Linked DNA regions of Homo sapiens: all the other regions are linked to region 2. The links come from fine-mapping of genetic effects on gene expression. A gene starts in region 2. Each other region holds a variant in brackets. All regions are shown on one strand. Distances are between the middles of the regions. Region 1 has its middle 7.0 kb from the start of EIF3G. Region 2 holds the start of ANGPTL6 (angiopoietin like 6). Region 3 holds the start of DNMT1 (DNA methyltransferase 1).

The links.
Region 1: its variant is fine-mapped to the expression of ANGPTL6 in whole blood (TOPMed, PIP above 0.99).
Region 3: its variant is fine-mapped to the expression of ANGPTL6 in prefrontal cortex (BrainSeq, PIP 0.91).

The regions. Positions count from the first base shown.
Region 1 is chr19:10,122,770-10,130,948 of GRCh38, reverse strand. No RefSeq gene overlaps it. Among named protein-coding and RNA genes, the nearest start is that of EIF3G, 7.0 kb to the right of the region's middle. The variant T/C (reference allele first, on the strand shown) is at 4,440.
Region 2 is chr19:10,098,372-10,106,550 of GRCh38, reverse strand. ANGPTL6 (angiopoietin like 6) reads left to right here and starts at 3,873. Exons shown (of 6, transcript NM_031917.3): 1 at 3,873-3,983. It overlaps PPAN (peter pan homolog), which reads right to left and starts at 189. Exons shown (of 12, transcript NM_020230.7): 1 at 139-189; 2 at 1-50. The coding sequence starts at 156. It overlaps PPAN-P2RY11 (PPAN-P2RY11 readthrough), which reads right to left and starts at 189. Exons shown (of 13, transcript NM_001198690.2): 1 at 139-189; 2 at 1-50. The coding sequence starts at 156. RefSeq lists silencers at 1-42, 7,279-7,328 and enhancers at 263-312, 1-552, 3,694-3,743, 3,814-3,863.
Region 3 is chr19:10,189,728-10,197,906 of GRCh38, reverse strand. DNMT1 (DNA methyltransferase 1) reads left to right here and starts at 2,954. Exons shown (of 41, transcript NM_001130823.3): 1 at 2,954-3,087. The coding sequence starts at 3,008. RefSeq lists an enhancer at 2,521-2,750 and a silencer at 3,011-3,250. The variant C/T (reference allele first, on the strand shown) is at 3,301.

The DNA of each region.
Region 1 (8,179 bases), 24 kb before region 2:
CACCACACCAGGCCTAATTTTTACTTACGTAGAGATGCAGTCTCACTATATTGCCTAGGCTGGTCTCAAACTCCTGGCCTCAAGCGATCCTCCCGCTTGGCTTCCTAAAGTGCTAGATTACAGGTATCTGCCACCATACCCAGCCAATAGTGTCAATTTTTTTTTTTTTTTAAATGAGATGGAGTTGTGGTCTTGTTGCCCAGGCTGGAGTGCAATGGCATGATCTTGGCTCACTGCAACCTCCGCCTCCTGGGTTCAAGCGATTCTCCTGCCTCAGCCTCCCGAGTAGCTGAGATTACAGGCGCCTACCACCACGCCCAGCTAATTTTAGTAGAGATGGGGTTTCACCATGTTGGCCAGGCTGGTCTCAAACTCCTGACAACAGGTGATCCACCCACCTTGGCCTCCAAAAGTGCTGGGATTACAGGCGTGAGCCACCACGCCTGGTGATAGTGTCTATTAAGATTGCCTTTACAAAACTTAGTGGGACATGGTGGCACGTGCCTGTAGTCCCAGCTACTCAGGAGCATGAAGTGGGAGAATCGCTTGAGCCCAGGAGGTGGAGGTTGCAGTAGCAATCTCGGCTCACTGCAACCGAGATTGTGCCACTGCACTCCAGCCTGGGTAACACAGCGAGACCCTGTCTCAAAAATAAACTGCTTTGGGCCGGGCACGGTGGCTCACGCCTGTAATTCCAACACTTTGGGAGGCCCAGGCAGGTGGATCACCTGAGGTCAGGAGTTTAAGACCACCCTGGCCAACAGGGTGAAACCCCATCTCTAGTATAAATACAAAAATCAGCCAGGTGTGGTACATGCCTGTAATCCCAGCTACTTGGGAGATTGAGGCAGAATTGCTTGAACCTGGGAGGCGGCGGCTGCAGTGAGCCACGATCACACCACCACACTCCAGCCTGGGCAACAAAGCGAGACTGTCTCGAAAAAAAAATAAACTGTCTTGCACCTCGAAGGTTGTCTTACCTAGGAATCTCTCTTGTTCCTCTATTTTTGAAAATTGGGGTAGAATATGAAATATGCGAGTCCTAAATGTTCAGCTTAAATTTCGAGAAGTGAACATAGCACTGTAGCCTATATCCTTATCAAGATAGAGAATGTCTCTGTCACCTCAGGTCACCTTGTGCCTCTTCCCACTTGATCTCCCCCTTCCCAGTCCCTGGGCAGCCTCCCATCCAGTTTTGTCTCCATAGATGACACCTGCCTGTTCAGGCCAGCATGGGCTCTTGTGTTTCAGATCTTTCAGCATAAATGCCTTTGGGATTCATCCATGTCATTAATATGTGTATCAGTTTTGTCCTTTTTAAAAAAAATATATATATATTTTAGAGGCAGGATCTTGCTCTGTTGCCCAGGCTGGAGTGCAGCGATGTTCTACTGCAGCCTTGATCTCCTGGGCTTAAGTGATCCTCCTGCCTCAGCCTCCTGAGTAGCTGGAACTACAGGCGCATGCCACCATGCCCAGCTAAGTTTTACATTTTTTTTGTGGAGATGGGGTCTCACTGTGTTGCTCAGGGTGGTCTCAAACTCCTGGCCTCACGTGATCCTCCCACCTCAGCTTCTGTAGTAGCTGGGACCACAGGCATGTGCCGCCATACCCAGCTAATCATTATTTTTATTTTTATTTATTTTTGAGACGGAATCTCACTCTGTCACCAGGCTGGAGTACGGTGGTGCGATCTTGGCTCACTGCAACCTCTGCCTCCTGGGTTCAAGCTATTCTCATGCCTCAGTCTCCCGAGTAGCTGGGATTACAGGCCTGCCACCAGGCCTGGCTAATTTCTATGTTTTTAGTAGAGATGGGGTTTCGCCATGTTGGCCAGGCTGGTCTCAGACTCCTGGGCTCAAGCGATCTGCCTGCCTCGGCCTCCCAAAGTGCTGGGATTACAGACATGAGCTACCATGCCTGGTAGCTGATTTTTATATTTTTTTATAGACAGGATCTCGCTTTGTTGCCCAGGCTGGTCTCAGAATCCTGGGCTCAAGCGATCTACCTGCCTTGGCATCCCCAAATGCTGGGATTATAGGCATGAACCACTGCGCCTGGACAAGAATATATTAACTATACTCACTATGTTATACAATAAATCTCTTAGAAAGCCTTTATTTGAACTTTTTTTCTTTATATTGTTTGGAAACAACTACAGTCTCAAGAGCAGTAGATTGAATTGTGATGCAGGTCAGGCCTTTGTATCCAAGGGTTCCACCTCTGGCATTCAACCAACCACAGATTTAAAATATTCAGAAAAATTCCACAAAGTTCCAAAAAGCAAAACTTGTATTTGCCACTTACCAAGTACTACATGGAATCCATGAGAATAAAGCAACGTGTAGACGTTATGTCAGGTATTACAAATAATCTAGAGACGACATAAAGTACACAGGAGAGGCCGGGCGCAGTGGGTCATGCCTGTAATCCCAGCACTTTGGGAGGCCAAGGTAGGAGGAACACTTGAGGCCAGGAGTTCAAGACCAGCCTGGCCAACATGGCGAAACACCTTCTCTACAAAAAATAACAAAAATTTGCTGAGCATGGTGGCACACACCTGTAGTCCCAGCTACTCCAGAGGCTGAGATGGGAGGATCACTTGAGCCCAGCAGGTGGAGGTTGCATTAAGCCGAGATTGCACTAGCCTGGGTGACAAAGCAAGACTCTGTCAAAAAGTAGTGTACACAGGAGAATATGTGTAGCGTATATGCAAATACTATGCCATTTTATTTTATTTTATTTTATTTTATATTTGAGACAGAGTCTCACTCTGTCGCCCAGGCTGGAGTGCAGTAGCACAATCTTGGCTCACTGCAACCTCTGCTTCCCGGGTTCAAGTGATTCTCCTGCCTCAGCCTCCCAAGTAACTGAGATTACAGGCATGTGCCGCCACGCCCGGCTAATTTTTTTGTATTTTTAGTAGAGACGGGGTTTCACCATGTTGGTCAAGCTGGTCTTGAACTCCTGACCTCAAATGATCCACCCGCCTCAGCCTCCCAAAGTGCTGGAACTACAGGTGTGAGCCACCATGCCCGGCCTATGACATTTTATATTAGGGATTTGAGCACATTCTGATTTTGGTACCACATGGGGTCCTAGAACCAATCCCCTGGGGATACCGAGGGATGGCTGGACATAGATTTGTATACACATGTGTATCCACGTCTAGGCTACTTTTCTAGGAGTTGAATGACTGGATTGAAACTTTAGAACTGGCACAGCCGCTAAAAGTCAAGCAGGTGTTTTATAGGGATTTCATTAACTTTGCAGACTTCTGGAAGAATTGACATGTTAATGACAAGCCTTCCTTTCTAAGAACAGGGTTTGTCCTGTTTGTTCAGGAATTCCTTTGTGTCCACAGCTTTTCATCCAGATCTTGCAGACTTCATAACTTGATTCCTAAGTATTTAGTCCCTTCATTACTAATATAAATGGGATGTTTTCTTGATTTCTAAACCATGGTCCTTTGCCTATGGAGAGATGCTCCATTTGTATTGGCTGTGATTTTGTAAACTGTGTTTTTTGAATCTAACCAACTTGTTGAATTCCTTTTTTTTTTTTTTTTTGGAGATGGAGTCTCACTCTGTCACCCAAGCTGCAGTGCAGTGGCGCGATCTCTGCTCACTGCAACCTCCATCTTTGGGTTCAAGGGATTCTCTTGCCTCAGCCTCCTGAGTAGCTGAGATTACAGGCATGGGCCATCACACCCAGCTAATGTTTGTATTTTTAGTAGAGATGGGGTTTCACCATGTTGGCCAGGCTGGTCTTGAACTCCTGACCTCGGGTGATCCGCTTGCCTCAGCCTCCCAAAGTGCTAGGATTACAGGTGTGAACCACCGCGCCTGGCCTGAATTTCCTTGTTTTTAATCCCACTTTTTCAGTGGTCACATTTTCAGGTATACGATCCTTCACCAAGAACAACTTGAGGATGTATTTTGGTGTAAGAATTAGAAACCTTGTCTTTTCTTTTTAGAGACAGGGTCTTGTTCTTTCACCCAGACTGGACTGCAGTGATGCGATCATAGCTCACTGCAGCCTCGAACTCCTTCGCTCCAGAGATCCCCCAACCTCAGTCTCTGGAGTAGCTGGGACTACAAGTATGTACCATCACGCCTAACTAATTTTTATTTTTATTTTTAGTAAAGATGAGTTCTTGCTATGTTGCCCAGGCTGGTCTCAAACTCCTGGGCTCCAATGATCGTCCCTCCTCATCCTTCCAAAGTGCTGGGATTACAGGTGTAAGCCACCGTGCCTGGCTTCTTTTTTTTTCCTTTTAATATATGATTATTTTTTGTAAAGATGGCGTCTCACTCTGTTGCCCAGGCTGGTCTCCAGTGATTTCAATTCTTGTAAGTATAAAGCAGATGTGGAAGTGCTGGGTCATTTGGTGGTTCTATTTTTAATGTTTTGAGGAACCACCATACCATAGTTCATAG[T/C]GGAAGGCTGTTTTTTAAATGAAATAAACATGTAAGGCTGAGGTGCCCATCTACTTCCCTAGAAAAACCACAGTAAGGACATTGCCACGTCTCCTTTCTGCCCCTGTTTTTTGGCTGTTACCACATCTGCATGTCCATCAATTTAGTATTTCTTTCTTTTTATCTCTATTTACTTTTTTTTTTTTTTTGAGATGGAGTCTCTGTTGCCTAGGCTGGAGTGCAATGGCGCAATCTTGGTTCGCTGCAACCTCCGCCTCCTGGGTTCAAGTGATTCTCCTGCCTCAGCCTCCTTAGTAGCTGGGATTACAGGCACGCACCACCACGCCCAGCTGTTTTTTTTTTTTTTCTTTTGAAACAGAGTTACCTTCTCGTTGCCCAGGCTGGACTGCAATGGCAGGATCTCGGCTCACCACAACCTCTGCCTCCTGGGTTCAAGCGATTCTCCTGCCTCAGCCTCCTGAGTAGCTGGGATTACAGGCATGCGCCACCACGCCCAGCTAATTTTGTATTTTTAGGAGAGACAGGGTTTCTCCATGTTGGTCAGGCTGGTCTCGAACTCCCAACCTCAGGTGATCCACCTACCTTGGCCTCCCAAAGTGCTGGGATTACAGGCGTGAGCCACCATGCCTGGCCACACCCAGCTGATTTTTGTATTTTTAGTAGAGATGGGGTATCATCATGTTGGCCAGGCTCGTCTCGAACTCCTGACCTCAAGTGATCCTCCCACCTCGGCCTCCCAAAGTGCTGGGATTACAGGTGTGAGCCACCGCGCATGGCCTATTTTTATTTTTTTTTACAAAGTCTTGGCCGGGTGCGGCGGCTCACACCTATAATCCTAGCACTTTGGGAGGCCAAGACAGGCGAATCACCTGAGTTTGGAGTTCAAGACTAGCCTGGCCAACATGGAGAAACCCCGTCTCTACTAAAAATACAAAATTAGCTGGGCATGGTGGCACATGCCTGTAATTCCAGCTACTAGGGAAGCTGAGGCAGGAGAATCACTTGAACCCGGGAGGTGGAGGTTGCGGTGAGCTAAGATCATGCCACTGCACTCCAGCCTGGGCAACAAGAGCAAAACTCCATCTCAAAAAAAAAAAAGGAGTCTCACTCCATCGCCCAGGCTGGAGTTCAGTGGCGCAGTATTGGTTCATGGCAACCTCTGCCTCCCGGGTTCAAGGGATTGCCATGCCTCAGCCTCCCGAGCAGCTGGGATTACAGATGCCTGCCACCACACCTGGCTAATTTTTGTATTTGTAGTAGACAACAGGGGTTTCGCTATGTTGGCCAGGCTGGTCTCGAACTCCTGACCTCAAGGGATCCGCCCACCTTGGCCTCCCAATGTGCTGGGATTACAGACGTGATCCACTGTGCCCAGCAGAAACAGGACCTTTAGAGAGAAAATTAAACCCAGGTGTGGTGGCTTATGCCTGTAATCCCAGCACGTTGGGAGGCCGTGGCAGGCAAACCACTTGAGATCAGGAGTTTGAGACCAGCCTGGCCAACTTGGTGAAACCCCGTCTCTACTAGAAATACAAAAATACAAAAATTAGCCAGGTGTGGTGGCACATGCCTGTAGACCCAGCTACTCGGGAGGCTGAGGCAGGAGAATCACTGGAACCCAGGAGGTGGAGGTTGCCATTAGCTGAGATTGCACCACTGCACTCCAGCCTGGACTACAGAGTGAGACTTCACCTTTAAAAAAAATAATTAAAAAAAAAAAGTTTAAATGAGGTCATTAGGGTGGGCCCTAATCCAATATGACTGATGTCCTTAGAAGAAGAGATTGGGACATAGACACACACAGAGGAGGCCACGTGAGGACCGAGGGAGAAGGTGCCCCCACCTCAGAAGAAACCAACCCTGCCGACACTGTGATCTTGGACTTCCAGCCTCCAGAACTGAGAAAATAAATGTGTGCTGTTTAAGCCTCCTAGTCTGTGATATTTTGTTGTGAAAATGTGAGAAAAAGTAACTAATGTTAAGCTGGGTTTGCTCAATTCTGCTTTCCAGCGTAATTTCACAAAGCCCCTGACTCTGAGACACGTGAGACACGTCTGCGCAGCTCTACAGAACAAGGCTTTGAAGACAAAACAGGACAGAGCACAGGGCACACCATGTCCCTTGCCCGAGTCACTATATTCCTTAAATGAGTCTGGGCACGGTGGTTCATGCCTGTGATCCCAGCATTTTGGGAGACCAGGGCAAGGGCATCACCTTAGCCTGGGGAGGTTGAGGCTGCAGTGAGCTGTGATCGTGCCACTGCACTCCAGCCTGGGTGACAGAGAAAGACCCTGTCTCAAAAAAAAAAAAAAAAAAAAAAAGGCGTGCCAGGTGCGGTGGCTCATGCCTGTAATCCCAGCACTTTGGGAGGCCCAGGCAGGCGGATCACCTGAGGTCGGGAGTTCGAGACTACCCTGACCAATATGGAGAAACCCCCGTCTCTACTAAAAATACAAAATTAGCCGGGTGTGGTGGTGTGCATGCCTGTAATCCCAGCTACTCAGGAGGCTGAGGCGGGAGAACCGCTTGAACCCAGGAGGCGGAGGTTGCAGTGAGCTGAGATCGCACCACTGCACTCCAGCCTGGGCAATAGAGCAAGACTCCGTCCCCCAAAAAAAAAAGAAAAAAGAAAAAAAGGACCTGGGCCGGGCACGGGTGGGTCACACCTGTAATCCCAGCACTTTGGGAGGCCAAGGTGGGCGGATCACAAGGTCGGGAGATCAAGACCATCCTGGCTAACACGGTGAAACCCCATCTCGACTAAACATACAAAAATTAGCTGGGCGTGGTGGCGGGTGCCTGTAGTCCCAGCTACTCAGGAGGCTGAGGCAGGAGAATGGCGTGAACCCAGGAGGCGGAGCTTGCAGTGAGCCGAGATTGTGCCACTGCCCTCCAGCCTGGGCAACAGAGTGAGACTCCATCTCAAAAAAAAAAAAAAAAAAAAGGACCTGGTTCAAACCTTTTCCTACACATAAAATAACATCTAATGGGGTCAGGGTATTATGCTTCTGTAATCTATAACCAGATGTACTCTTGCACCCAAACCTTGATGTGGCTCACACCTGTGTAATCCCAGCACTTGGCTCATGGCAGCCTCACCTCCTGGGCTCCAGCGATTCTCCTGCCTCAGCCTCCTGAGTAGCTGGGATTACAGACATGCACCAACATGCTCAGGTAATTTTTGTATTTTTAATAGAGATGGGTTTTCACCACGTTTTCCAGGCTGGTCTTGATCTCCTGACCTCAGGTCATCTGCCTGCCTTGGCCTCCCAAAGTGCTGGGATTACAGACGTGAGCCACTGTGCTCAGCCTCTTTCTTTTTTAGAGACAGGGTTTTTGCTCTGTCACCCAGGCCAGAGTGTAATGGCACAATCATAGCTCACTGCAGCCTTGACCTCCTGGGCTCAAGCAATCCTCCTACCTCAGCCTCCCAGGTAGCTGGGACTACAGGCGTGCATTACCACACCCAGCAATTTTTTGTGTGTAGTGATGGGGTCTCAATGATGTTGCCTAGTCTGGTCTTGAACTCCTGGGCTCAAGAAATCTTTCTGCCTTGGCCTCCAAAACTGCTGGGATTATAGGCACGAACCACAGTGCCCAGCCAAGAAATATATTTATATGTTACATCTCACATATATTACATAAATGCATATTATATATTAATACATGTCCAAAAATAATATTTCCTTTCTTGGTGCCTTCTTTCCAAAGCATTCCTCATTAACAGGTTCTGATTCTTT
Region 2 (8,179 bases):
TCGAGGTTGCGGAGCTGCGCCTGGGCGCGGGCGCGCTTCTGGTGCCGGGACTGCGGCGACGAGAGACAAAGGGTCAGCGCCGCGACCTCGGCCGGGACCCCACCTGCGCCACCTGCCTCCCAAGCTGCCGGGCCTTACCCTCCCTGACTGTCCCATGCTGCTGTGTCCTCCACGAGGCCTCCTGCGTCCGCCGCTTCCGGCGCTGCGCAGCTCACTTCCGGCGCCTGAGAGCCGGCACGGCGTGGGACGACATCAGGCGGGCCTGCGCACTAGGTGGCCTCTGGGAGCGGGGAGGGGCAATCAGATGGAGCGGTTGCTATGGAGACACGGGTGCCTGTTTCTAGGGAGACCGGGGCGGGGCTACGCGGCTCCGGGCTGCAGAGAAACGAATCCGCCGGTTCGAATCCCGCTTCGGCCCATTTCCTCCAGCTGGGCTAAAACCACTTTCTGCATTCCGAGGCTCCTAAAATATCCCAAAGTAAGGCTGATAATGTCCCCCGGGCCCACGAATTAGGAGCGACCATGTATGCACAATGTTGGGCGCTCTGGCGCCAAGTACTTGGGGAGAAGCCACCGGAGGGAATGACTGTGGCAATCATTCACTTTAGTCTCGCAACTCCTCTGGGCCAGCTGTCCTCCCCGGGTACCCCTGTCTGCAGACAGGCTGAGGGATGGAAACTCCACATCACCTTCTGGAAACTCAGGGCAAGGCGGGCGTTTCGTGAATAACTCGCCCCCTCCTTCTTTCCGCTCAAAGCCTCAGTCTTGGCCTCAGGCCTCTGGCTTCTTCCCCAAAACCTTGCAGTGGGGGAAAGGGACACCCCCTCACTGGGCTGAACATTACTCTCTCCTCCCCCATCGGCCTCCTCTCCCTCCTTGCTCTCTCTGGCACCCCAATTCTTCCTCCTCTCCCCCAGATGTGTCTCCCCTCCCCCTCGTCTTCCCCCTGTCTCTTTCTCCCTCTTGTAACTTTGTCTCTGTCATCAGTTGTCTCTTTCATCATTTATAACTGAAGATGGAAACTAAAGAAGTTTCCTTTCTCTGTGTCTGGCCCCATCCCTGTTTCTTTCTTCTCATCTGCCTCCCTGTGGTCTCTCCCCATCTTCCCATCTCTCTCTGTCTCTCCCCATCTCCCCGTCTCTCCCTTTCTCTGCCATCTCCCTATGTCTCTCCCATCTCCCTATGCCTCTCCCATCTCCATCTGTCTGACTCTCTGTATTCTTCAGCCCCTCTCTGTGACTTATGAAGTTCCCTCCCTCTCTACTGCCAATGGGGAAGCCAGAGGGGGCTGAGGGTGGGGGGCCGAGGGGCCCAGTGTGGGGGCCCCAACCCAGGCCCAGAGCCCAGCCTGGCAGCCTCTCTCAGATCTGGGACGACCATTTCCTTTTTCAACCCTGGAGTCCACTCGAGTTACTCGGGAGCTCAGGATGGTGCAGACCAGGGGAAGGAGGTGACTCTCCCGGCGTGTGGCTGGTCGTCGGTGGGGCCTTTGGACAGGTCTCAGACCCTGGGCCTGGGCTCTGTGGGGCTCTATGTGAGTTTCTTTGTACCCCTGGGAAATGACTGCATGGTTACTTCCCCCAGTTCCGTCCTCGTGTGATTTGACTTGTGTGAAAATGTGACCGAGTGTGTGGGAGACAGACGGTGACCTCTGTGGTGCGGTGGATAGGTTTCCGGGTGTCAACTGTGTGTACCTGTTTTGTATCTGTGCACTACTGTGTGATCACAAGAACCAGGATGTGGACAAGCCTGACACACAGATAAAGACCCACTCAGCCCACCCCATTTCCCTTTAAGTTGTGATGTGTGTGTGACCATATTTGGAACATACAGTTGTTGCCTGAAACTGTTATGTTTCCAGCTGTGTCTTTTTAAAAATTTTTTTTAATCAATGAGATATCCTTTATTTATGAAAGCATAGTTCCAATGCAGAAGTCAAGCTTTATGGTTATATATTAGGATAGGTTCAGATCCAATATGACAATGTTTAGCACTAACTTTAACATGTTAAAGCTCTGATTCCTGAATGTTTTTCTCACTTAATATATTCTCTCCAATGACAAGCTGGTGTGCTTGGCTTCTTATGCTGAAAAATATATGCCTGAATTCTATAACAAGCTATTAACAAAATCATGAATAGTTAATTAAATAAGTGCCAACACTACATGGAACTTACTGGCCACCAACTCAGAACCATAAAACTACACACACACACACACACACACACACACACCACACACACAAACAAAACAAAAAAAACACCAAAGAAAGATAGCTATCACTGTACATATGAATACTGTCCAGGATATCAGATCAATTATCAAATCCAAGGTCTCTGGTGTTTTGTCTCACAGTGTTGAATATATGAATGCTTCTCTATTATACTGACTTGTATTATTTTCAACAAATAATTATGTGGACTCAAAATCTTACATTTTTATTTCTTTTCTTTTTTTTTTTTTTTTTTTTGAGACAGAGTCTTACTCTGTCGCCCAGGCTGGAGTGCAGTGGCTCACTGCAACCTCCGCCCCCCGGGTTCAAGCGATTCTCCTGCCTCAGCCTCCTGAGTAGCTGGGATTACAGGCATGGGCCACCACACCCGGCAAATTTTTGTATTTTTAGTAGAGACGGGGTTTCACCATCTTGGCCAGGCTGGTCTCGAATTGCTGACCTCGTGATCTGCCCACCTTGGCCTCCCAAAGTGCTGGGATTACAGGCGTGAGCCACCGCGCCCAGCCTTACATTTTTATTTCTAATTATAAAATCCAGATTAATCCAAAAAACATAAATCACATGTAACTGAGGTAGGGTTTTCACTTTAAGAATATATTGTTTCTATCACAATTTAAAAATTTACAGCTGTGTCTTTTATATTTATTTTTTATTTTAATTAATTAATTCCTCACTTTATTATTATTTATTTATTATTTATTTATTTATTTATTTATTTATTTTTGAGATGGAATTTCAGTCTTGTCGCCCAGGCTGGAGTGCATGCGGTTGCTCGATCTCGGCTTACTGCAACCTCCACCTCCTGGCTTCAAGCAATTCTCCTGCCTCAGCCTCCCGCGTAGCTGGGATTACTGGCGCATGCCACCATGCCCAGCTAATTTTTGTATTGTTAGTAGAGACGGGGTTTTAGCATGTTGGCAAGGATGGTTTCGAACTCCTGACCTCAGGTAATCCACCTGCCCCGGCCTCCCAAAGTGCTGGCTTTCAGGCATGAGCCACTGCACCCAGACTTTCGCTGGGTGTTAATGTGTGCGTGCGTGCAAATGTGTGTGTGTGTGTTTGTGTCCACTCTGTTATGTGCCCATATGTGTGTGACAGCTGTGGTGTACATGTGTGAGTTTCTGAGTCAAGCTACCTTGGCTGGCTCCCATCCTGGTCTCTTTTTGGCTGTGTGACCGCAGGCAAGTTGCTTACCCTCTCTGAGCCTCAGTTTTCCCTGCTGTAAAATGAGGGTACATACAGAATCCAGCTCAGGTTGTAAGGATCAAATACGTAAAAGGTGTGGAGAGTTTAGAGCCAAGCCCTACACACGGTAAGTCCCCAGTGATGTTCCTCTTTCTATGTGTGGTGTGTGCGTGTCTGGGGCTGGGATCACGCCTGGCTGCCCCAGGGCCTGCAGCCTCCCACGCTCTGGGCTCTGCAGTGGAGGGTGTGGGGGAAAGGGAGGGATGTCCAGGACACTGACCTGTGTTATCAGGCTCTGGTGGCCTGGGCAGGGGGGTCTGGCAATTCTGTCTCATTTCTCATTCGGGAAATGCTAAATATTTATAGTTTGGGCTCCTGGGCCCAGCATCCCAGCTCCACTCCCAGGCTCTGGGGGCTGGGGAGTGGTTACCAAGCCTCCTCTCTCCTTCTGTCCCACTGCCCTCTCCCCGTCTCTAGCTCAGAGGCCCCACTGGACCCTCGGCTCTTCCTTGGACTTCTTGTGTGTTCTGTGAGCTTCGCTGGATTCAGGGTCTTGGGCATCAGAGGTGAGAGGGTGGGAAGGTAGGTGGAGGTTGATTCTCACTGTGGGGAAACTCCGACCACAGCTTGGCTTGGGGGCCCCCAGGCCACCCCGCCACCCCAGGCTGAGAGTGTAAAAGGCAGCGGGTGTTATACACACGTCCCAGTTCTGGGGGGTTGCTCAATCTCTGTTGTGGGGGGTGGGGCATGTCAGTGATCGGGGACAAAGAGAGGACCCTACCCCCGGATCCTTGTGAGCCCCTGCTTGGTGTCTGAGTCCAGAAGTAAATGTGGCCATCTCCAGCCCAGAACCCTCCATGGCTCCTGCCTGACTCAGAGTAAAACCCAAGTCCTCCTCCGGGCCCACAGGACCCTTCACACTTTGCCCTGACACTTCTTACCTCCTCCTGCTTCCCCCTTCTCTCTTCCGGCCTCATAGACATTTCTGCCATTTCTTTTTTTTTTTTTTTTTTTTTTTGAGACAGAGTCTCGCTCTGTCACCCAGGCTGGAGTGCAGTGGCGCGATCTCAGCTCACTGCAAGCTCCGCCTTCCGGGTTCACGCCATTCTCCTGCCTCAGTCTCTGGAGTGGCTGGGGCTACAGGCGCTCGCCACCATGCCCGGCTAATTTTTTTTTTTTTTTTTGTATTTTTAGTAGAGACGGAATTTCACTGTGTTAGCCAGGATGGTCTCGATCTCCTGACCCCGTGATCCACCTGCCTTGGCCTCCCAAGTGCTGGGATTACAGGCGTGAGCCACCGCACCTGGCCTTTTTTTTTTTTTTTTTTTTGAGCCTTGCTCTGTCGCCCAGGTTGGAGTGCAATGGCGCAATCTCTGCTCACTGCAACATCGGCCTCCTGAGTTCAAGTGACTCTCCCACCTCAGCCTCCTGAGTAGTAGCTGGGATTACAGGCATGCATTACCATGCCCAGCTAATTTTTGTATTTTTAGTAGAGACGGGGTTTCACCATGTTGGCCAGGCTGGTCTTGAACTCTCGACCTCAGGTGATCCTCCCGCCTCGGCCTCCCAAAGTGCTGGGATTACAGGCGTGAGCCACCGTGCCTGGCCCCTTTCTGCCATTTCTTGGGTGCAATCTCCGGGCCTTTGCACCTGCTGTTCTCTCTGCCTGGAATGCTCTTCCTCTTCTCTCTCTTCCATCAGGTCTTTGTGAAAGTGTCCCTTATTCTTTATTTTATTTTTATTTTTATATTTAGTAGAAATGGACTTTCACCATATTGGCCAGGCTGGTCTCAAACTCCTAGGCTCAAGCAATCCTCCTGCCTTGGCCTCCCAAAGTGCTGAAATTACAGGCATGAGGCACTGTTCCAGTCAAGTGTCACTTCTTCTGTGAGGCCTTTCCTGACTCCTCTATTTTATTTTTTTTTGAGACAGAGTCTCGCTCTATTGCCCAGGCTGGAGTGCAGTGGTGCAATCATGGCTCACTGCAACCTCTGCCTTCCGGGTTCAAGTGATTCTTGTGTCTCAGCCTCCTGAGTAGCTGAGACTACAGGCGCGTGCCACTACGCCTGGCTAATTTTTGTATTTTCAGTAGAGACAGGGTTTCGCCACGTTAGCCAAGCTGGTCTCAAACTCCTGGCCTCAAGTGATCCTCCCACCTCAGCCTCCCAAAGTGCTGGGATTACAGGCACCTCGGCCTCCCAAAGTGCTGGGATTACAGGCACCTCGGCCTCCCAAAGTGCTGGGATTACAGGCGTGAGTCAGCACACCCAGTCCTGACTCCTCTATTAAATGTCCCCCACCTCCGGGACTGTCACCCCCTTGCCTGTTCCATTTTTCTCCTAAGCACGATTACCCTCTGACCTACCTAGCGGCTGTTTGACTTATTTCTCTGTTCTCCCAACTTGAATGTCAGCTCTGCAAGGGCAGGAATTTTGTCTGTTTGGGTTAAGGCTGTGTCCTCATTGCCTAAAACAGCATCCCTGGCACACAATAGGCACTCAAGGTGTCTGTGGTTGAATGCATGAATGAGGCAATGTGTGTGTGAGATGGAGACCCTCGGGATATGTGCTTGTGCAGGCATCAGGAAGCATAGGTTTAGGGCCAGTGTGGTTGCTCACATCTGTAATTTCAGCACTTTGGGAGTCCAAGGTGGGAGGATCACTTGAGCCTGGGAGTTTGAGACTAGCCTGGGCAACACAGTGAGACCCCCTCCCTACAAAAAAGTAGCTGGGCATGGTGGTGCGCACCTGTAGTTCCAACCACTCAGGAGGCTGAGGCAGGAGGACCACTTGTGTGCAGGAATTGGAGGCTACAGTGAGCTATGATTGCTCCACTGCACTCCAGCCTGGGCAACAGAGCACGACTCTCTCTTTTTTTTCTTTTTTTTTGAGATGGAGTCTCACCCAGGTTGCCTAGGCTAGAAGGCAGTGGTGCGGTCTCAGCTCACTGCAACCTCTGCCAGGTTCAAGCCGTTCTTCTGCCTCAGCCTCCCGAGTAGCTGGGATTACAGGCATGCGCCACCACGCCCAGCTAATTTTTTGTACTTTTAGTAGAGACGGGATTTCACCTGTTGATCAGGCACCCTGTCTCTACTAAAAATACAAAAATTAGCTGGGTGTGGTGGCGCATGCCTGTAATCCCAGCTTCTTGGGAGGCTGAGGCACAAGAATCACTTGAACCCGGGAGGTGGAGGTTGCAGTGAGCTGAGATTGCAGAGCGAGACTCCGTCTAAAAAAAAAAAAAAGAGGGCGTGGGGGAGAGAGAGAGAGAGAGAGAGAGAAAGAGAGAAAGAGAGAGAGAGAGAGGGAGAGACAGAGAGAGAGAGAGCTTGTATATGGAGGTACAACCCTAAATCTGCTGTTCAAGGAGCGCTGCTGAGACTTGAATAAGGATAGGAAGGGAATGATGTTAAGTTGTGAACAATGTTCCAGGCTGCAAAAACAGCAGGTACAAAGGACCTGAGGCTGGAACTTGCTTCGTGTGAGGAAGGGCCTGGGAGGAGGGCAGAAGGGGATATGGCAGATAGCACAAGTTTTTTTTTTTTTTTTTTTTTTTTTGAGATGGAGTCTTGCTCTGTTGCCCAGGCTAGAGTGCAGTGGCACAGTCTCGGCTCACTGCAAGCTCTGCCTCCCGGGTTCAAGCCATTCTCCTGCCTCAGCCTCCCGAGTAGCTGGGACTACAGGCAGCCGCCACCACGCCTGGCTACTTTTTTTGTATTTTCAGTAGAGACGGGGTTTCACTGTGTTAGCCAGGATGGTCTCGATCTCCTGACCTCGTGATCCGCCCGCCTCCGCCTCCCAAAGTGCTGGGATTACAGGCGTGAGTCACCAAGATAGCGCAACTTTTTATGGATCATGGGTGGATTTGGGCTTTTCCTCTAAAGGAGGTGGGAGCCAAGAAGGATTCAGGGCAGAGGAGGGAGGGAGGGACGTGAACTGACTCAGATGTTCACAGGCGCCCTCTGGCTGCTGTCAGAGAGACTAGACCTGGGGTTGAGGATGGAAATCCAGAGAGCAGGGAGGCAGCTGCTGTCATCCAGATGGTGTCTTGAGCTGGGAATTCAGGGAGGGTCTGGGGGCAGTGGGGAGTAGCGGAGACGTGGAGGAATTCAGGATCTAAGCAGAAGAGCAGACGGGTCTGGCTGATGGATTAGATCTGCTGAGATGGGTTGGATCTGCTGGGGTTTTGGTCTGAGGACGTGGAAGATGGGGTTTCCAATATCCGACGGATGGGAAGGCAGTTAGTGAGACGTTTCCCTCACCCCACCTCACCTCCTTGCACCCTGCTCCCTTTGCTATTTTTTTTTTTTGAGACAGTGTTTTGCTTTTGTTGTCCAGGCTGGAGTGCGGTGGTGCGATCTCGGCTCACTGCAACCTCCACCTCCCAGGTTCAAGTGATTCTCCTGCCTCAGCCTCCCAAGTAGCTGAGATTTCAGGCCTGTACCACCACACCCGGCTAATTTTGCACTTTCAGTAGAGATGGGGTTTCACTATGTTGGTCATGCTAGTCTCGAATTCCTGACCTCAGGTGATCCACCCACCTTGGCCTCCCAAACTGCTGGGATTACAGACATGAGCCACAGCACCCAGCCTCCCTTCGCTTTTGCTTTAACCTCTCCCAGGTTGCTTTAATACATCAGGCAGGGTCCAGTCTCAGAGCTTTTGCACTTAGATCTGCTCCTCCACCAGGCCTTCCCTTTAGGCAACCCCCTCTCAAGCTGCCCCTGCACAGACCTGCGTATTCTTTACCTAGTTTGCTGTTT
Region 3 (8,179 bases), 91 kb before region 2:
AACTTCCATGCTGTTTCTCATAGCAGCTCCACCATTTTATTCGACTCTCAACCGTGCACAAGGGTTCCAGTTTCTCCACATCTTCACCAACACTTATTATTTGACAGTGGCCATTCTAAGGGGTCTTAGGGATATTTCATTGTGGTTTTGATTTGCATTTCCCTGATGACCAGTGATGTTGAGCATCTTTTCATATGCCTGTTTTCTATTTGCATATCTCCTTTGGGAAAGTATGTATTCAAATCATTTGCTCTTTTTGTTTGTTTTTGAGACGGAGTCTCGCTCTGTTGCCCAGGCTGGATGGAGTGCAGTGGTGCAATCTCGGCTTGCTGCAAGCTCCACCTCCTGGGTTCACACCATTCTCCTGCCTCAGCCTCCTGATTAGCTGAGACTACAGGCGACTGCCACCACGCCTGGCTAATTTTTTGTATTTTTAGTAGAGATGGGGTTTCACCACGTTAGCCAGGATGGTCTCGATCTCCTGACCGCGTGATCCGCCTGCCGCCTGGGCCTCCCAAAGTGCTGGGATCACAGGTGTGAGCCACCGCACCCAGCCCATTTGCTCATTTGTAAATCGAGTTTTTGTTGTTGCATTGTAGAAATTTATTATTTTTTAAATTTTTATTTGAGACAGAGTTTCTCTCTTGTTGCGCAGGCTGGAGCGCAATGGTGCAATCTCGGCTCACTGCAACCTCCGCATCCCAGGTTCAAGTGATTCTCCTGCCTCAGCCTTCCGAGTAGCTGGGATTACAGGCACACCACCATGCCCAGCAAATTTTTATATTTTGAGGAGAGACAGGGTTTCACCATGTTGGCCAGGCTGGTCTCAAACTCTTGACCTCAGGTGATCCACCCGCCTTGGCCTCTCAAAGTGCTGGGATTACAGGCGTGAGCCACCAAGCCTGACGGGTAGTAATTTATTTTTTATATAATTTTTTTCTTCTTTTTTTGGTAGAGACGAGGTTTTGCCATGTTGCTCAGGCTGGTCTAAAACTACCGGGCTCAAGTGATCTGCCTACCCGGGCCTCCCAAAGTGCAGGGATCACAAGCATGAACCACCATGCCTGGCTGTAATTTTTCATATATTCCGGATATTAACCCTTTACCAGATAATACAGTTTGCAAACTTTTTTTTTCCCCATTCTGTAGGTTGCCTTTTCACTGTTGGTCATTTCTTTTGCTGTATAGCTATCCTTAAGTTTGTTGCAAACCCATTTGTCTATCTTTTGTCTTGTTGCCTGTGTTTTGCTGTCATATCCAAGAAATCATTGCCAAATCCATTGTCATGAAGCTTTTCCCCATGTTTTCTTCTAGGAGCACTATAGTTTCAGGTCTTATGTTTAATCTTTAATAAGTTTTGTGTTTTTGTATATGGTGTAAGGTAAGGGTCCAACTTCATTCTTTTGTATGTGGTTATACAGTTTTCTCAGCACCATTTGTTAAAGACACAATCTTTCCCCCATGTTCTGGTGCTTTAAAAAAAAAAAAAATTCTGGCTGGTTACGGTGGCTTAGGCCTATAATCCCAGCACTTTGGGAGGCTGAGGCAAGTGGACTGCTTGAGGCTAGGAGTCCCAGACTAGCCTGGCCAACATGGTGAAACCCTGTCTCTACCACCGAAGATACAAAAATTAGCCAGGCGTGGTGGAGTACGCCTGTAATCCCAGCCTACTAGGGAGGCTGAGGCATGAGAATCGCTTGAACCTGGGAGGCAGAGGTTGCAGTGAGCCAAGATCTCACCACTGCACGCCAGCCGGGGTGACAGAGTGAGGCAGGGTCTTACCCTGTCGCCCAGGCAGGAGTCCAGTGGCCCAATCATGGCTCATTGCAGCCTACACTGCCAGGGTTCAAGCCATCCTCCCACCTCAGCCTCCCAAGTAGCTAGGATTACAGGTGTGTGTCACCATGCCCAGCAAATCTTTGTATTTTTTGTAGAGATGGGGTATCCCTATGTTGCTCAGGCTGGTCTTGAACTCCTAACCTCAAGCGATCCTCCCACCTGGGCCTCTCAAAGCACTGGGATTACAGGCGTGAGCCACTGCGCCTGACATGGTGCTTCTTAATTTATTCTTACTTTTTATTTTTATTTTTTTGAGACAAGGTCTTGCTCTGTCTCCCAGGCTGGAATGTAGTGGTACAATCATGGCTCACTGCAACCTCTGCCTCTCCGGTTCAAGTGATCTTCCTGCCTCAACCTCTGGAGTAGTTTGGACTATGGGCACATGCCACAACGACTAGCTAATTTTTGTTTTTCTTTTTTTCTTTCTTTCTTTCTTTCTTTTTTTTTTTTTTTGAGATGCAGTTTCTCTATGTTACCTAGGCTGGTCTAAAACTCCTGGGCTCAAGCGATCCTCCCACCCTGGCCTCCCAAAGTGCTGGGATGACAGGCGTGAGCCACGTGGTGCTTAAAAAAGGCAACAAAAAACCCCCCACACACTGGGTATAGAAGTGGCATGGGCCTCTATACACTGTGAGATTCTTGGTACTAGCTACAAATTCTGTGTATACTCAAGATTTTCTAGAGTAGGTGCAATTACCCCGTTTTACAGATGAGGACACAGAGGCTGAGCCGTAGTGACCCACCTAAGGTCGTATAGCCAGCAAATAGATGGAGGTTGGATTGGAACTGAGGACTTTACTCAAGGGCTCTCACAAACCCTTGGGGGCTTCTCGCTGCTTTATCCCCATCACACCTGAAAGAATGAATGAATGAATGCCTCGGGCACCGTGCCCACCTCCCAGCAAACCGTGGAGCTTGGACGAGCCCACTGCTCCGCGTGGGGGGGGTGTGTGCCCGCCTTGCGCATGCGTGTTCCCTGGGCATGGCCGGCTCCGTTCCATCCTTCTGCACAGGGTATCGCCTCTCTCCGTTTGGTACATCCCCTCCTCCCCCACGCCCGGACTGGGGTGGTAGACGCCGCCTCCGCTCATCGCCCCTCCCCATCGGTTTCCGCGCGAAAAGCCGGGGCGCCTGCGCTGCCGCCGCCGCGTCTGCTGAAGCCTCCGAGATGCCGGCGCGTACCGCCCCAGCCCGGGTGCCCACACTGGCCGTCCCGGCCATCTCGCTGCCCGACGATGTCCGCAGGCGGTAGGTACCATGGGGGGGAACACGGACTCAGGGGGACAGGCAGGGCGCTGGGTGGGGGGTCGCTTCCCCTCGGGGTGGCCGGTGGCCGCTGCTGACAGACGGGCGCGCATGCGTGGGGTGGTGCGGCGCGCAGCGGCAGTTGGCGCGGGCAGGGTGGCACTTCCGGTCGCGCGTGCCCGGGCTGTTTGGCGCCAAAATGGACCGTGGATTCCC[C/T]CGTAGCTCCCTGGTGGCTAGAAACTAGGCGGGGTGGGGGTTCTCTTTTGATCCCCAAATACAGCAAGCTTTGGGTTCGTTTCCGGGGTCCCCTTCTTCAAGCAGCGGTGGGCCGGGCTCTTGACTCCAGCTTGGTCGCACAGGAAGTGGGCAGCCCGCGGCCAACGGACACCCCTCGGGCACCGGCACTTCGGCCTCCACTTCCGGTGTCCGGCCCGGTCCCCGGGGGCGCTTCTGTGGTGGGGGGTCCCTCAGTGCCTTTCCCCCAAAGCTGTGCATCTCGATGGCGGCCTCCAGAGACGGATGTCACCCGTCGGGGCCTGGGCTGGGCTGGCTCATGTTCGAGAGCCCAGCCTTCCGTGGGGTACTCATTCTGTCAGTTGGGACTGTGTGGTTCTTGCTCCTTGGGAAAGTCCATGTTTTGGCAGGAACTTTAACCGTGCATTGCAGCGCAGGGCCCGGGAAGCGTGAAGGCTGCATGGTTGGTCTTTTCCTGTAAATCTGTGCCTGTGAGCCGTGGGCATCAGGGAAGTCTTGCTAATGAGAACTGGCTACACTTTCGTGTGTGTTTGTGTGTGTTCATGGGTGTGTTCTTTAGTGTGTGTCTAATGTTGGAGGCCCTGGCTTTAGCAGTTCATGCCTCTGTCCAACTTCCGTGCACAAGGATCAGTGGGAGCACTGGTCCCAGCCCCTTGTTCATGAACGCCATCAGTTCATTCCTGAAAACTTGTTCAAGTGAGGTGTGCGTGAGTCAGAGGAACCCTCACCAGGCGTGGACACTTCCAGCTGGATTTGTGAAAGCACTCTTTGCCATTTTTCTATTTCCTTAGGCTTGTTAACTGACCTGGTTGGGCCAGTCCGGTTCTGATTTGGGTCTTTGGGGAGGGATGGATATTTGGTTCAACCCCCGCTTTTTTTCTTTTCTTTTTTTTTTTTTTTTTGAAGGCTGGGTGCTGTGGCTTATGCCTGTAATCCCAGCAATTTGGGAGGCAGTGGCGGACGAATCTCTTGAGCCAGGAGTTTGAGACCAGCCTGGGCAACAAGGCAAAACCCCATGTCTACTAAAAATACAAAAATTAGCCTGGAGTAGTGCCGTGCGCCTGTGGTCCCAACTACTCAACAGACTAAGGTGGGAGTATCACTTGAGCCCCAGAGGTTGAGGCTGTGTGTAGCGAGCTGAGATCGCGCTATTGCACTCCAGCCTGGGTGACAGAGTGAGACCCTGTCTCAAAAAAAGAAACACTTTTTATTTTTAGAGATGGGTCTCACTCTGTTGTCCAGGCTGGAGTGCCCTGGCACAATTATAACTCACTGTAGCCTTGAACTCCTGGGCTTAAGGGATCCTCAGCCTCCTGAGTAGCTGGGACCACAGGCGCCCACCACCATGCCCAGATGACTTTCTTAGTTTTTGTTTCTGTATACGTGAGGTTTCACCATATTGCCCAGGCTGGTCTTAAACCCCTGCCCTCAAGCAGTCCTCCTGCCTTTGTGTCCCAAAGGTTAGGATTACAAGTATGAGCCATCATGCCTTAACTACTACTTTTTTTTGTTTGTTTGTTTGAGATGGAGTCTCATTCTTTCACCCAGGCTGGAATGCGGTGGCGTGATCTCGGCTCACTGCAACCTCCACTTTCAGGGTTCAAGTGATTCTCCTGCCTCAGCCTCCGAAGTAGCTGGGATTACAGGTGCACACCACCACGCCTGGCTAATTTTTGTGTTTTCAGTGGAGTCGGGGTTTCTCCATGTTGGTCAGGCTGGTCTCGAACTCCTGACCTCGTGATCCACCTGCCTCAGCCTCCCAAAGTGCTGGGATTATAGTCAAACCACTTCTTAACCAGTTAGTGGGTATATATCTTCTTGAATCATCTGTGCCAGTATTCTCCCAAAATAAAACTTGATTTAAAATGGAATGGAAGTGAAATTATGAAAGTGCCTGGCTTCATGATGTTACACCCAATTCAGAGAAGTTTGGGCCCGGCCTTCCTTTTTTATTCCTTTTTTTTATTTTGTAGAGATGGGGTCTTGCCATGTTGCTCAGGCTGGTCTTCGATTCCTGGCCTCAAGCGATCCTCCTGCCTCAGCTTCCCAAAGTGTTGGGATTACGGGTGTGAGCCACCATGCCCAGCCTGCCCAGCCTTCTTGAAAACATGACCTCCACTGGCTCAATGACCTTAAACAAGCGTATGCCACCTCTATATCCATAGTCTAGGAATAATGACATGGGTTTTCAGCTGGTATTGGGTTAAATGAGAATATGCATGGCACATAAAGGTTCACATGCTAGTGGCTAACTTAGCTTGTTTTTTTCAGTTTTTTTTTAAGAGACAGGATCTCACTGTGTCACCCAGGCTGGAATGCAGTGGCACAGTCATGGCTTACTGCAGCCTTGAACCCCTGAGCTCAAGCAATCCTCCTGCCTTAGCCTCCTGAGTGGCTGGCACATGCCACCATGCCCAAGTTAATCCTTAAAAAATTTTTTAGAAGGCTGGGCGCGGTGGCTCACGTCTGTAATCCCAGCACTTTGGGAGGCTGAGATGGGCAGATCACCTGAGGTCAGGAGTTTGAGACCAGCCTGGCCAACGTGGCGAAACCCCATCTCTACTAAAAATACAAAAAAATTAGCCAGGTATGGTGGCAGGTGCCTGTAATCGCAGCTACTCGGGAGGCTGAGGCAGGATAATCGCTTGAACCCAGGAGCCGAGATTGCACCGTTGCACTCCAGCCTGGGCAACAGGAGCGAAACTCTGTCTCAGAAAAAAAAAAAATTTTTTTTTTTAGAGATGAGGGTCTTGCTTTGTTGCCCAGGCTGGTCTTGAACTCCTGGACTGAAGCAATCCTCTGCGTTGGCCTCCCAAAGGGCTGAGATTACAGGCGTGAGCCACAGGGCCCGGCCATTATTCCTCAAGAGTTCTTAAAAGTGGATGCTGCAGGAGTTAACTGCCAGGAAGCAGGAATTCCTGCTAAGGTCTGCTGCTTGCCAAAGCCTTTCCCTTCAACAGGGGTTGCCAGTAGGCCACTGGCTCAGGGGCTCTGTTGGCCCTGTGCAAATATTTTGTTTGGCTGAATTGGAATACCATTAGGTGAGCCTTACAATCCACCACTGACCCTGGGTTCCACATTTCTTTACACTCAGATTGCTTCACTGTAGGCATTGGAGTTTTGGAGGACTGCTTTTGACCATGTGGTAGACATTGAAATTGTAGTTTATATGACTCACTCCACAGACTTTTTTTTTTTTTTTTACATTTTGAAAATATTTCATTAAATGAAAAATAAACATGGTATCCAACAGTACTTGAAACTTAGATTTTTTTTTTTTTTTAATTGAGGCAGGGTCTTGCTCTGTGGCCCAGGCTAGAGTGCAATGGTGTGATCTCAGCTCACTGCAGCCTCCGCTTCCCGGGTTTAAGCAATTCTCCTGTCTCAGCTTCCCAAGTAGCTGGGATTACAGGTGTGCACCACCACGCCCAGCTAATTTTTCTTTTTCCCCCTCGAGGCTGAGCCTTGCTCTGTCGCCCAGGCTGGAGTGCAGTGGCCGTGATCTCGGCTCACTGCAACCTCCACCTCCCGAGTTCAAGCAATTCTCCTACTTCAGTGTCCCAAGTAGCTGGGATTACAGGCGCCCGCCACCAAGCCCAGGTAATTTTTGTATTTTTATTAGAGACTGGGTTTTGCCATGTTGACCAGGCTGGTTTCAAACTCTTGATCTCAAGTGATCCACTTATCTTAGCCTCCCAAAATGCTGGGATTACAGGTATGATGGTGTCCAGCCGGTTCATTGTTTTTATTTTATTTTATTTTATTTTATTTTATTTTATTTTATTTTATTTTATTTTATTTTTGAGACAGAGTCTTGTGCTGTCGCCCAGGCTGGAGTGCAGTGGTGCGAACTTGGCTCACTGCAACCTCCCCCTCCCGGGTTCAAGTGATTCTCCTGCCTTAGCCTCCTGAGTAGCTGGGATTACAGGCATGTGCCACCACGCCCGGCTAACTTTTTCTTATTTTTAGTAGAAACCGGGGTTTACCGTGTTGGCCAGGCTGGTGTTGAACTCCTGGACTCAAGTGATTCGCCTGCCTCAGCCCCGCAAAGTGTTGGGATTACAGGCATGAGCCACCGTGCCTGGCCTTTTAATTCATTCTTAAGCCTGCTCTCAGACAGCTAGGCTTGCTTCTCCACAATAAAGAGTGTTGAATTTTGTCGGTGTATCCCGCATGGTGCCATTATAACACTGAAATTAGTGATTATTTCAGGGTCTGTTACCAGAGCGTGTCTGCCGTATTCACTGTATCTGCAGCTTGGAGCACAGTAGACTCAAATGCTTGCATGCCAGCTCTTCCCCTGTACAGCCTGGATTAACACTGATGCTAGCAGACTCCTTTGCACAACTGATTAGCTTTCGTAACTACCACAGCTTTCTTACTGCTAGTCATTCTGTGATGGGATTAAGCTAGGTCTTGAACTCCTTAACTCCAGTTCCTTGGCTACTACTGAGTACATACTGAATAAGGCAAAATTGACTTACCTCTTTTGTTTTGCTCCCCTGTGGTAGAATTCTAGGGGTACAGACTGCTGGGTTTCAAATGCCGCCCTACTTGCCAGCCGTATGGCTAAGTTATTGAACTTCTTGGTGCCTTGGTGTTTCATCTATAAAAAGGGGGTGGGGCTGCCTGCTCGACAGGGGTGTTAGGAAGACTGAGCTTATCAGTACAGATATGTTGAGAGCAGCACCTGTCCAAAGCCCTTCATCACTGGTTATTACGTGGTACTGTGTGTACAGTGGGGATGCTGTGGGTTTGGTTCCAGACCACTGCAGTAAAGTGAATCTAGCAAGAAAGTGAGTCACACACACATTTTGGTTTCCTAGTATGTGTAAAAGTT